Homo sapiens: one gene and its partners. The protein of the gene in region 2 interacts with the protein of the main gene of each other region in a biochemical or structural test. Each region holds a gene or a part of one and is shown on either strand. Other genes may lie near its edges.

The links.
Region 1: of the proteins of NSF (region 2) and PTPN12, one has a biochemical effect on the other in vitro, tested with the Homo sapiens proteins (one large-scale study listed by IntAct).
Region 3: of the proteins of NSF (region 2) and PTPRG, one has a biochemical effect on the other in vitro, tested with the Homo sapiens proteins (one large-scale study listed by IntAct).
Region 4: of the proteins of NSF (region 2) and PTPRK, one has a biochemical effect on the other in vitro, tested with the Homo sapiens proteins (one large-scale study listed by IntAct).

The regions. Positions count from the first base shown.
Region 1 is NC_000007.14:77,596,295-77,599,794, reverse strand, and holds part of PTPN12 (tyrosine-protein phosphatase non-receptor type 12), read right to left. Parts: intron 1,954-3,500; coding exon 1,894-1,953; intron 1-1,893. UniProt on the Homo sapiens protein: Dephosphorylates a range of proteins, and thereby regulates cellular signaling cascades. Dephosphorylates cellular tyrosine kinases, such as ERBB2 and PTK2B/PYK2, and thereby regulates signaling via ERBB2 and PTK2B/PYK2.
Region 2 is NC_000017.11:46,754,669-46,757,964, reverse strand, and holds the end of NSF (vesicle-fusing ATPase), read right to left. Parts: intron 2,652-3,296; coding exon 2,596-2,651; exon of another isoform or gene 2,592-2,595; intron 2,164-2,591; coding exon 2,142-2,163; 3' UTR 501-2,141; downstream 1-500.
Region 3 is NC_000003.12:62,201,571-62,205,070, reverse strand, and holds part of PTPRG (receptor-type tyrosine-protein phosphatase gamma isoform 1 precursor), read right to left. Parts: intron 1,899-3,500; coding exon 1,121-1,898; intron 1-1,120.
Region 4 is NC_000006.12:127,975,100-127,978,599, forward strand, and holds part of PTPRK (receptor-type tyrosine-protein phosphatase kappa isoform b precursor), read right to left. Parts: intron 1,956-3,500; coding exon 1,824-1,955; intron 1,684-1,823; coding exon 1,558-1,683; intron 1-1,557. UniProt on the Homo sapiens protein: Regulation of processes involving cell contact and adhesion such as growth control, tumor invasion, and metastasis. Negative regulator of EGFR signaling pathway. Forms complexes with beta-catenin and gamma-catenin/plakoglobin.

The sequences.
Region 1 (3,500 bases), on a different chromosome or scaffold from region 2:
TCAAATTCCTACTTTGGCCATTTCCTAAATAACTTCAGGTAAGCTATTTAACTTCTTAAAGCTTCTGTATCTTCATCTATGTGCAACAGACGTAACAGTATCTGGATATGATGCAGTTAGCAGAATTAAGATGCCTGATCTACCACAGAAATTCATTAAGGTACTTATTATTATTACCGTAGATTAAAAAATTAGCAACCAGTCCAGATTCAGTGGCTCACATCTGTAATCCCAACACTTTGGGTGGCCAATGCAAAAGGCAAGATCACTCAAGGCCAGGAATTTGACAGCAGCCTGAGCAACATGGCAAGACTTCATCTCTATAAACTATAAAAAATTTAGCTGGGTTTGGTGGCTCATCCCTATAGTCTCAGATACTAGGAAGGTGGAGATGGGAGGACTGCTTGAGCTCAGGAGTTTGAGTCCAGCCTGGGCAATATATAGTGAGACCCTGTTGCCAAAAAAAAAAAAAAAAAAGTCGGGGCGCTGTGGGGGGTTTCAACTAAAAACAATATATATCTAAATGAAGACTTAGCTTTGATAGTGACTTTTCTTTAACAAATTGTAAACCAGTAAAACAGGGTAATAATTATATAAACAATGCAATAACCTGCTTACTGCAATAGAATAAAAATATTTGCTGCAAAGAAGGTATAACTATTCCAAATTTAACAAATTTAGGGTATGTTATAATTAATATTACTTTTTATGTAATGTGATAAGCATAAATGTCAAGACTAAATATTACACTCTCATTTCATCTTCGTAACTAAAAAATTACCAAATTTCATTAATTATGTTAAATAACATAGTATACTATTTATATAGCTTGTTTTATTTTTTTAGTAGCTAAAAGTTGATTAGTTTGCAAAGACAAAAACTAACTTCACATGCTTTAAAAATAAAAATTGCTGTTACTTTTTTTACTTACAAAAAACTATAAAGCAGATATAAAGCAAAATAATAATATATATTATATATATTATTTGCATTTTGCAGATATAAAGCAAAATAATTTTCTAGCAAACCCATTTTACCAAATAAAACATTTAGGTAGTAGTATTATATTTTCTATTTTTAAAACATTTATTTTATTTTTTATTTTATTTTTTGAGACAGAGTCTTGCTCTGTTGCCCAGGCTAGAGTGCAGTGGCACCATCTCGGCTTATTGCAACCTCTGTCTCCCAGGCTCAAGCAATTCAAGTGCCTCAGCCTCCTGAGTAGCTGGGATTATAGGTGTGCACCACCATGCCCAGCTAATTTTAGTATTTTTTAGTAGAGATGGGGCTTCGCCGTGTTGGCCAGGCTGGTCTTGAACTCCTGGCCTCAAGTGACCAACCCACCTCAGCCACCCAAAGTGTTGGGGATTACAGGAGTGAGCCACCATACCTGGCCTCAACTTTTATTTTGGATTAAGGGGTACATGTGCAGCTTACATGGGTGTATTGTATAATGCTGAGGTCTGGAATACAAATGATCCTTACCAAAGGAGTGAGCATACTACCCAATAGGTGGTTTTTCAGCCCACGCTCCCCTCCCTCTCTATGTCTTCTCTTTGAAAACTATTCTCTATTCTCAAAACCATTTTTGAGAGTCTCCCTCTGTTGCCCAGGCTGGAGTGCAGTGGCACAATCATGGCTCACTGCAGCCTCAACCTCCCGGGCTCAGCCTTCTGAGTGAGTGGGACTATGGGCACATGCCACCATGCCCGGCTAACTTTTTTCTTTTTGTAGACACAAGATCTCACTATGTTGCCCAGGCTAGTCTTGAACCCCTGGACTCAAGTCACCCTCCCACTTCAGCCTCCCAAAGTGTTGGGATTACAGGCATGAGCCACTGCACCCAGCCTGAAAACTATTCTTACAGATAGTCTATAAATGGTAAGTACCTACATTTTGAAATTCAAGTAAGAGTGTCCTGATGAAGTAGTCTGTTCTTGCTTGTTCATCCTCCTAAATAAAGAGAAACATTTCTAAGTCAGTGAAAACGTTAAAACAAAAAGACACATCAAAACAAATAAAATACTTGTATCAAAGTCCACAATATAAAATTAATCTTTAAAATTCCAGATGTACCTGATAATTATAAAAAAATTCTAAAAGTCATCAAACATTTGAAATGTTTGAAGTGATAGACATGCTAATTATCCTGATTTAGTCACTCCACATTTTAAATTACACATACATGTACCAAAATCACATGTACCCCATTAATAAGTATAGATACTATGTGTCAATTAAAAATAATAAAAGGAAAAAAAGAGCTAGTAAGCCATGAAAAGACATGGATGAACCCTAAATGCACATTACTAAGTGAAATAAGCCAATCTGAAAAGGCTACATACTGTATGATTCAAACTATATGACTTCTGAGCTGGGAGCAGTGGCTCATGCCTGTAATTCCAGCACTTCAGGAGGCTGAGGCAGGTGGATCACTTGAGGTCAGGAGTTCGAGACCAGCCTGGCCAACATGGTAAAACCCCATCTCTACGAAAATACAAAACTTAGCTGTGTGTGGTGGCGCGCACCTGTAATCCCAGCTACTCAGGAGGTTGAGGCAGTAGAATTGCTTGAACCCAGGAGGCAGAGGTTATAGTGAGCTGAGATAGTGCCACCGCACTCCAGCCTGGGCGACAGAGCAAGACTCCGTCTCAAAACAAACAAACAAACAAACAAAAACAAACTATATGACTTCTGAAAAAGGCAAAACTATGGAGACAGTAAAAATAATGACTACCTAGGGTTGGGAAGGGGGTGAGATGAATGAATAGGTGGAGCACAGGACTTTTAGAGCAATGACACTATTCTGTATGATACCACAATGGTGGATACACGTCATCATATATTTCTTCAAACCCACAGAATGTATAGCACCAAGAATGAACCCTAATGTAAAATGTGAACTCTTGGTGATAATGACTTGTCAATGTAGGTTTGTGAATTGTAACAAAGAGACTGCTCTGGTAGGGAATGTTGATAATGAGGGCTACATGTGTGGGGACAGGGTGTATATAAGAAATCTCTGTACCTTCCTCTCAATTTTGCTGTAAACCTAAAACTGCTCTAAAAAAAATAGTCTTGAAAAAGTTAGGCAGTGGCTCACACCTGTAATGCCAGTAGTTTGAGAGGCTGAGGTGGACGGATCGCTTTAGCCTAGGGGTTCAAGACCAGCCTGAACAATATAGCAGAACCCTGTCTCTACAAAAAAATACAAAAACTAGCTGGACATTGAGGCGTAAGCCTGTGCTCTCAGCTACTTGGGAGGCTGAGGTAGGTGGATCACTAAGCCCAGCAGTGAGGCCAAGGCTATATAGTGAGCTGCGATCACGTCGCTGCATTCCAGTCTGGGTGACACAGTGAGACCCTGTCTCAAAACAAAAAACACTAAAAAAAAAATTTTTTTAAAAACCTTAAAATGAAGTCTCCTATCAGATAAAGTCTCCTAACAGATAGACCCAAACAATATGTACAAATAAGAGAAGTGAATTTGGGAATCAAGT
Region 2 (3,296 bases):
TGAGTGCAAGTGGCGTGATCCTGGCTCACTGCAACCTCTGCCTCCCAGGTTCAAGCAATTCTCCTGCCTCAGCCTCCTGAGTAGCTGGGATTATAGGCATGTGCCACCACACCCGGCTGTTTTTTGCATTTTTAGTAGAGACAGGGTTTCACCATGTTGGCCAGGCTGGTTTTGAACTACTGACCTCAAGTGATCCACCCACCTCAGCCTCCCTCTCGGATTACAGGCATGAGCCACCGTGCCAGGCATTTTTTTTTTTTAGTAAGATAAAATAAGTATAAAGCATAAAGATGGTTGTATATTAACTTTTTCTGATACTCTAATGATGTTTTTAAATAACTATACTTTCTAAATAAGAGATTTTTAAAATAAAAATCATCCCTCATGTTATGCTACTTGTAACAAAACACGGAGAGGTTTCTTTCCTGAGCCCCCTCCTTCTTCCTCCATTCCTATCAGCTGTTCATGTCGTTCTATATGAAACACTGGTCTACAGAACATTTTCAAGTATATTTACTCTTTATTGCATTCCTTCATTTGCATTAAACAATATTTTTTCAATACAGTTTTGGACAAAACACAAAGACATTAAGCTCATTTAACAAGAGACATAAGTTAACACAATGTGTGCTGCTTTCATGAGGAGGAAAGAGGCAAGATCTTAGAGGAATCCAGGATACTGGCCACCAGGAATCACAGGATCTCACAATACAATCCACTTCTTTAAAAGCCACAAAATAAGCTAGGGAAGAAAACCCAAAACAAAGAAGATATGACATCCAAGTCTCCACCAAAAGTATACAAATGGCAAGATTTGGAGATGATCTGCTTTCTCACATGAGGACAAATAACAGAGGAGCCACACCCAAGTGCCACTGTGGCCACAAGCCTCATGGGTGGCGTGTGAGGTAAGCACCTTAGGATGGCTTCTAATTGCTTGTCCTTGCATTTTAAGCAGCAGTTGGGAGAGAGAGGCACACTCCATAAGTCTCATCACCAAATATGACCTAATTAAATTCCTGCTAAGTCAGTCAGTTGTAAGACAAATCACCCTCAAAAGGACTCAACGGGTGCTTCCTTTTGGAAGAAGTGTGTGGAGGGTAAAGGAAATGTGTTCAATGTATTGGAATGGACAATAAAGGACTGAGGGAGAGGGCTAGAAAATGATTGATTTTTCTGGAGAATAGTGTTTTAGACACTAGATAGTACAGATCATTTAAAATAAAGGATAAATTCTAAGTAAGTCATTAAGCTAAGGAAAAAGCAGTGATACTAGTAAGCCTTAATATTATACTAAGGAATTGACCCACTTGGAGTTGGACACTAATTAGTGCTGAGAGGTTTGTAAATTACTTTAATAACTCCTTTCTGTTTGGGGGTGTATGCTTTTTCCATACCTATCTTTCACATGTTTTTAACAACATCTTCTAAGTGGTAATAATGAGCATATCTCTTACCACAGAGCAAATTAGTTATACTTAAGGGGAAGTCACAACCAACACGGTAGTCATCTGACTTTCTATTAAGAAAGATCTTCTGACTGCAACTTGAAAACATCTCTGACAATGATTGAGAACAGCATTTTAGAGATTCAATGCCTTGTTTCTTCAGGCAAAGAGAATACCAGTCTTGTGGGAGACCTTTAACCAAATACCCAGTGACTTTTAGTGTTAGCTCAGGACAGCTGTCAGAGGATCTCTGGCCCACACCTCGATTTACTAAGCCAGATTTGCATGTAGAAAGTCTGCCTTCTAATCGGCCAACTGTTGTCATGCAACATTCATGACACTGACTGAGAGTTTTCAAGGGTGATGGTGCTAGTAGAGAGGTTGAAACGTGTAGTGTCCACAAGTACTGGATGGTTCCCACCCAGAGGGACTGAGCAAGAAGGAATCACTTTAGCCTGCATGGGAAGGTAAGCGCAGCATTCTAAACCAAATTGACACCTTCCACGAGACACTAAGCTATCTCAGTATGCATAAGGAAGGGAGTTTTATTGCACTAATCATGCAGAGCGAGCACATGTTGAAGGTAGAGAACGTTCCACTTAGTCCAGTATCTTGAGTAAGACAGTGAAGATCCTAGGCCATCTTCACCTTGGTCACTTCCCTTGGTCACTGTGTGTTTCAAATAGTTCATTTTCAATCAAAATCAAGGGGGCTACTGCAAAAGAAATACCAAAACACAAAAAAACAGATGAGGGTCCGTAAAAAACTATTCATCAAAAAAAAAAAAAAAAAAATCACTAAAAGCTTCTTAATGGTTATCCTACATTTCCCACTATGCATTTGCTATTAGATGAGCACTTCACAAAAGAAAATGGTCACAGCTCCATGCATGTAAAAGCAGGTTCCAATAAATATGTACCATTAAGTTTTTCCTGCATTGTGACAAGGAAGTTTTGCGAAGCAGGACAGGGAGAGCAAACCAACAGTACAACCAACTTCCTTGCTTGGTCTCTCGGACCTACAACACAGCGAAGAATTCAAATAAATGGAAACAAACTTATCTAGGAAAGCAACTCTTAGAATAGGCACAGGGATTTAACAGGGTGGTAAGTTTGGTTGATGGTCATTAAATGTTGTATGTACTTACGCTCCTTCTTCTCTTAAGAGGGCCAAGAATTTTCTCACACGGTATTCAGGATCCATCTAAATACATCAGAAGAAATGAAGATGGGTTAATGGTACCTTCTAACAACTCTGCACTTGCTTCATGAGAAGGCAGTGTTCGGTTTCACACTTCATCAATGCTCTGCTAGGTCACTGAATGTGTTACCTGCTCCTTGACCAGCATTCTCACACAAAACAAAGCAGATCACATCATTTGGAGGAAGTGAATGGGGTTTTCCAGAACTATGTACACTGGGTTCCAAAAGACCCAAGCCCGCTGGCCATCATAGGCACTTGGGCCAGGCGTGCCCTGTGCTGATGCCTGTGAGGCATCGCTGTGAGACTGGACAGGGCCATTCATCAGAGTTCAAATGACAACCAATTCACCTGTTGAAGGTGTAAAAGGCTACTAAAGTCACAGCAAAGTAGAAGATACCAAGTTGAGGTTAATTCAACAACTAAAAAATAGCTTATTAACTCTACATAACCAACCATGTAGCTTTTCTTAGCCTCAGTATCCGTCATATAGTTTCTTCTTTGTAGTAACAAAGTTGTGCTAAAACTAAAAAAATGAAGAGTACTGCTGATTCCTGAAATCATCTCCAGATGAATCTGGGTCTCCTGTGACTGCGAATGTGTCATGAGTCTAAGAAAAGATGGCGCAACTTTGTTTCAGGTGCTTCG
Region 3 (3,500 bases), on a different chromosome or scaffold from region 2:
TAGATGAATTTTAATGTTTACAAGTGCAAAAGCAAATAAATATTTACCAGTTGCTTTTTTTTTGCACTCTTATAACTCCACAACAGCTTAGACGCAAAAAAAATTGTTGCTAAACATCTTGTAGTCTGGCAAAATGAAGAATTTCTTATTAAGAAAAGCCCTCACAACAATAACAACTCCTCATGCTTATGGCTCCCTTGCAGAAACTATCAGGATGGTTCATTAAGATTTGAGCATATGATAGAGCAACAAAATTGCCACCAGGAGATGAGGATCTCATGCCCTGGCCTCACTGTCTATACACTGGCTCATTCCCACAGCAATGGGAGCTCTGGGAGAGAGGGCCGTATTTCTTGGGCAAGGACCATGGGCCAATACCAGCTCTCCCCAGGCTGAAGCCTTTCATTCTGTAGGTTTCCATGAACAAGCCACTTCTCCAGAGTGGCCTTTCTTAATTAAGGTAGGTCCCTATCCTCTCCATAATTCTCTTGGACAGCATCCTGTTTATTTCCTCTATTACCATTTCACAATCGAAAACTTCAGTTAGTTAGTTTTCCAGCTTGCCAGTTAACCATCTAGCTTGCCGACTAACCACCATCTAGCTTGCTGGCTTTCTAACGTTCCTGCTACCTAACTTCTGGGCATGCGCTCCAGCTAGCTACTGTCTTGTCATCTGTCTGCCTTCCCCTTTAAACTTTTTAGGCAGGGACTAGGATCCCCTGGGACAGCACCCTGCCCAGTCCCTGGCACCAAACTAGCCATTTGTAGATACATTATATAATGAATATGGAATGAAATCTTAATAAATAAACTTCTTAAGATCGATGGCTTTTTTTATTCATGTATATCATTGCCTGGTTGAAGTCCCTGGAGTTATTCCGAGGCAAGAAAACAAATATCAAAGAAAGACTTACTCCAGCGTAAGAGAGTAGGCTTTTGGAGTAAAACAGGGACACACACATACACATTTCACATGTGTGCACCTTTTCTATGACAGACATATATGATTCTAAGAATATTAAGTACCTTCTGAAGCTTCACCTTCTGCTCCCAATTTTTTGAAAAAGGGTACGACTATTCACAGGAGCAGGAACCCTCGAAGAAGACCTGCACCACTTACCTGGATTAACAGTGATAAATCTGCTGTCTTCAGAAAATCGGTCCCCGCGGGACATAGGCTTTTTAGATGGCATTTCGGGCCTCTTGGGATCACTCCCTGCATACTGCTCCTCTGTGGCGGTGGGGGGCACTTGGGTGGAGGTGACCATGTCGGGGTCCAGGCCTGGGCCGGCATCCCTCCTTCCGCCCGTCTGGTCTGTGGGGACGGCAGTGTGATCCTGCTCATGCCCAGGTATAGTCTGATGCCCTCCCTCGGCAGTCCTGTTAGGAGACGAGGGTGTGGGGCTGGGCTCCGTCTGATTCCGCTCCTCGGCAGCGTGGGTCACCCCACTCTTCTCCTTCTTTTCGGAGTCCTTCTCTCCATCCTCCTCGTGCTCCCGCTCCCCATCCTCACTCTCGCTTTTCTCATCCTTCTCTCCTTCCTCGGTGCCCTCGCCGTCCTTGGTTGGTGACGAATCACCATCGGGCCCTGGAGAAGCCAAGGCCTCTGTGGTGGCTAGGACTGGCCTAGCCGCCTGCTTGCTGGCTGAGGCGGCCGTCGGGAGGCGCGTGGGCCACACAGTGCTGGGGAAAGAGGAGATGCCACCACCGCCGAACCCCAGGCCGGCGAGCAGCGTGCTGGTGACCACCGAGGCCACTGTGGCCTGGCTGCCACTGGAGGAGGGGCCCATCCCAGTTGCCATGGAAACAAATGAGAATGGGATGCCAGAGGACGTCCAGGTAGAAGACCCCGAGCTGATGGGGGCCATGTCGGCTGAAGAGGCAGGAGACGCTGTGGGCTGGAAAGGGTCACCCGGCAAGGGTGGAAAAGAGGCAGAAGAAGAAAAAGCAGAGAAGCATCAGTAATTGAGATTGGGAATGAGGCCCTGGTTGTCACCCTCTGAGGATTTTACTCATCTATGCTATGGAGTTTTCCAATGTATGGCATAAAGTTGACATTAGGTGGTCCATGGGTGATCAACTTTTATTTTTAATGGTTTTATAATTGTGAACATGTTAAAATGCATAACTAGTCGATCAAACTCAGCTTTTCACTGATATTACCCAAGATGAGGCTAGGTGCCAAAAAAACTAAGTAGTGTTAAAGCTGACTTACACAACAAAGAAGTCATGAACTGGAAAAATCAGATGGTCATCTGTTCTTGGGGTGATGAGAGGCAGAAGACCTTTGATTTTATGTATATCACTGACACTTGAGTAGATACTCAGCTCTAGGTCTGGAAAGATACTGGGTGATCCAGTCCAACCCCACTGTCTCCCAGTGAGGAAGTGGGTGGACAAGGAGGGAAAGCAGCCTGCCCAGGTCTGCAATGACAGGGTCAGAGGCAGGAGCCATGCTCTGCACTGCATGCTCTGGGCACTGGTTTACATCTCTGCATCTCCATGTTGGGCACTGCAGAGTCACTGTACCTTGCAGTTTCTAAGTTGATCCGTGGGAAAATCTGAGCCCATACAGATGACAACAACATCAACAACAATAACAAGAATTCCAATTAACAAATGCCAACCGTGTGCCAGGGCTTTCCATGCTACTCTGGAGGCAGGCATGATCATCACCCCATTTTGCAGGTGAGGAAACTCAGACACAGAGATGTTAAAGAGCTTACACAAGGTACATGACCTGGAAGGCACAAATGCAGGGCTGCCTGGGTCTAAGACTCGGCTTGTTCTTACCACCATACTAAACTGGGGCTCAAGTCTGGGGGTTTTACTCACATAAGGTATCTTAGGAAAACAAGAAGTGCTGCTCTGAGCTATTAGTCTAATTTTAGCTTGCCTGCTGGGTGATGCTGGACACATTACTTTAACTCACTGAGCCTCGGTTTCCTCATCTGTAAAACGGGAACAACAGTAACACTGACCTTGTGGGCTGCCTGGAGAAGTAAATAAAATAATCTGTGCCTGAAACCCAGGAAGAGCATAGTGAATTTTAGGCTATTATTATTATCACCACTGCTGTGATTAGTATTTTAATTATTCATTATACCAACCAGGAATGGGGAAACTAAGATATTAATTCTGGTTCCAGAAATTTTCAGATCCATATAACTTTACGCAAATGACAACCTCTGAATTTGAGTATATGTCAAATGAAAGGGTTGGAACAGATTTAACTCCTTTGTGGTCCTGCATCGTCTGATCCCACAAATCATAACTAAAAATATGAAGAATTTTTACCTTCACAAAATTATATAATATAACCACCTAACACTGTTGCACAGCTTGTGTTCATAAGGTACTGAATTATAAAAAGTGAATAATGTAATTTTTTCTCTACTATAACCGCTTTACACTGAGCAGTTTAACAACATTATACTGCCACTTCGTGGTGACAGTTTTAACTGCAAGCAAATTAACAACCAGCCACGACAAAGCAATTT
Region 4 (3,500 bases), on a different chromosome or scaffold from region 2:
ATGTACTAATAAGGACCAGAATACCAAATACAGAGGCAGTTCAATAAGTAAGCAAACAAATAAATAAATATGCTGACAAAAATATAACATTTCAGTTCCTGTTCCTAGAATATTTTTCACATAAACTGCTCAATTAACAGACAAGCCTTACTGTCTTCAGCAGTTCTGTTTTTTTCCAACTCAAATATTACTAGAACCATAATGTAACAGATGTGCAGACATAATGAGATTCCATTTAAATTAACATCTAAGATATGCATGAATATTATGAGATGATTGAAGTTATCCTTTTTTTCTCCACTGAAATGAGCAATAGGAGTCGATATGATTCCATTCCCTGCTCATAGTTATATACATATAGACTTATTAACCAGACACACACGTAGTCATTTTGATATGAGAGACACTGAAACATGATAATCCTAATCACACACTTAAAATACATACCCACAGAGCTGGTGCTTTAAAAAACAGAGTAATGTTTCTCTCTAAAAAGAGCTTAATTTCATGAAAGTTACTAATGTTTTCTTTTCCAATTCTGCTTGTTATTTGGTTACATAATCTAAATTGTTTTTATTAATATCTTTTTTTGGGGGACGAAGTCTCGCTCTATACAGCCTGGGGTGCAGTGGCGTGATCTCAGCTCACTACAACTTCTGCCTCCCGGGTTCAAATGATTCTGCTGCCTCAGCCTCCCCACTAGCTGGGACTACAGGCATGCCACCACCATGTCCAGCTAATTTTTGTATTTTTAGTAGAGATGGGGTTTCACCACGTTGCCAGGCTGGTCTTGAACTCCTGACCTTATGATCTGCCCGCCTTGGCCTCCCAAAGTGCTGGAATTACAGGCATGAGGCACTGTGCCCGGGCTTTATTAGCACTTTTTTTTTTAAGATCTTCCCCACCCACATTGAATTTGTCATGTAGTGGAAAGCAAATGAGGAGTCAGAGAAAGACGATACAGTTACTACTTTGCTGCTGGGAAAAGGCATGGTGGTAGCAGCACTGGTTCTACCTTTAGATCTGCTTAGAGCCATAGGTTGAGACGTTTAGGAAGATGAAATTGCAGGTAGGATAATCAATAATGAACTTGGAACAGTGACATGGAACCCTTCTATAATGGTTGATCCAACATGTCTCTTTCCTCCTGCAGTACAGTTTCTCTGTCATTATTGTTATTGCAATGTTCTTATTTTTTTTATCACATGCCATTTCTGGGCTGGATGTCAATACTAATAAAACATGCAGTCATCCTTAAGATAAGTCTACATACACTCAGAGGCCAGGCCTAGGCTGTCCAACTTGACTGAGCCAGTGCATCTGTATTTCCTGAGAGAATATGCTAGTCTAGTGACTGACCGAAAAACCTAGCTTCCAGCATTTCTGTTTTCCTGTATTTTTATTCGAGTACTAAGGCATAAGATGGTTACTAGCTTTGAGGTGGATGATATAGTGCTTATTAATTGTAGTCTCCCTGTTGTCTGAATAAAATTATACCACATCTTGGTTATGACTGACCTATTCTAGATCAGCTCAAAGGATCCGATAGTGACTTACTCTTGTTAGATTGCATATCCTAAAAATCCGGTTGATCACATCACAGTCCATTGAACAAGACATACATTCCACTTGGATGGGGCCATATCGTAGCATCCCTTCCTCTGGCCAGTACTGAGGGCAGCCCTAAATGATGAACGTTTTGAAAGAAAAAAAAAAAGAGTATTATTTTTTCTAGTTAGGAGAGTATAAAGCAGATTTTAGCAATTCATTACTACTCTATTAAGTTGTATATAAGTACATAAAAGCAATCCATAGCCATTAACCTGGGACAAGTCGACTTCGTTTAACATCACAATGGAGGTACAGCCATAATCATACACTAATCTCCAGAAGTCTTTTACAGTGTTTGGCAGAGGGTATTGTGTGACGATGAAAGCAGCTGGTTGCCTGTAGCTCTGTGAAGAAACAAGGTAGATGGAGAAATATAAAAACTTAAAATGTATGATCGGTTGTACAAACAGATACAATACACTTCAATGTAGGACCAGTAAGATGCAATAGCTTCATATGCAGAAGGAGCCAGAGTGATGATTAAACCATGGAATAGGAGATTCAGACCACTGGAATGAACTGAATTAGTACAGTAATGAATCAATTTGGTGGAAGACTTCAATGCTTCCAAAGCAATTCAAGTCAATAACTGAGTTTTTACTTTACTGAAAGACGTAAATACAGGACAAATACAAAAGAAGAAACTAAAAAGCTTCTGAGGTTAACATCCTCTGTAAGGTTCCTGTTGGGCTATTTCAATTTTCCAAACGTAATCAGTCTCTGAGAGGCTGAAGGCAAAGTAAGCACAAAACCCCTGGTATGTCTATCAATCATCTGGGTATGTGTATAGTGTGTGTGCGTGCAAGTAAAATTGTTTTACTCTTCTCCACTCCAAATAAGAAAAACCACAAGTAGCTCAAACACTTGTGCTTTTACATTATGTGGACACTACCAGGATATTCTGCACATCTTGCAGACAATCCACCTTCCACAGCTTCCTGGGCATTTCTAACATATATCAAAGGTCATAATGACAGTCTCAACCATTTAAGATCCTGAAGCACCAAAGCATAACAGCAATATATTTCCTGTCCCCACATAAGCGGGGAGATAGCTCCTTGTTAACCAAGTCCTCCTTGATTAGAACACAATATATTATCTCTTTCCAAAGGGAGAAGTAGTAAAAACAATATTTATCTGGACTGGACAATTGCCATTTGATTTAAACTAATTATTTGCAATAATAATAATAATAATTAGTAGATTATAGAGTTCCCTAATGCTGACAAAAATTTTCAATGATCTTGTAACTCATTTGTATCATACTACTATTTAAGTCCTTCAAGAATCTTAACATCAGCACAGGAACTGGTTCTTGGACTTCACTGATGCTACCACCATTTGGGAAATGCTACCAACCATGGCATTCAGCGTTGGCTGAAGACTGCAGGATAAATCTGAGTAGATGACAATAATAATTTACCTGGCTACTTCTAAATGACCTCAAAACCTTACCAAGTTACACGTGCAGCTGGGATGAGTGTCTCCTAAGAAAGGCAGGAAGGTTCATGAGTCATATTGTTTGGCTCTGTGTCCCCACCCAAATCTCACCTAGAATTGTAATAATCCCCACATGTCAAGGGCAGGACCAGGTGGAGATAATTGAATCATGCAGGCAGTTTCCCCCATGCTGTTCTCCAGATAGTGAGTGAGTTCTCATGACATCTGGTGGTTTTATAAGGGGCTTCCCCCTTTGCTTGGCACTCCTTCCCCTTCCTGCCACCATGAGAAGAAGGACGGGTTTGCTTCCCCTTCGGCCATAATTGCAGGGATCCTGAGGCCTCCCCAGCCCTGTGGAACTGTGAGTCAATTAAAACTCTTTCCTTTATAAATTACCCAGTCTCAGGTATGTTTTTATTAGCAGTGTGAGAATGAACTAATACAATGAG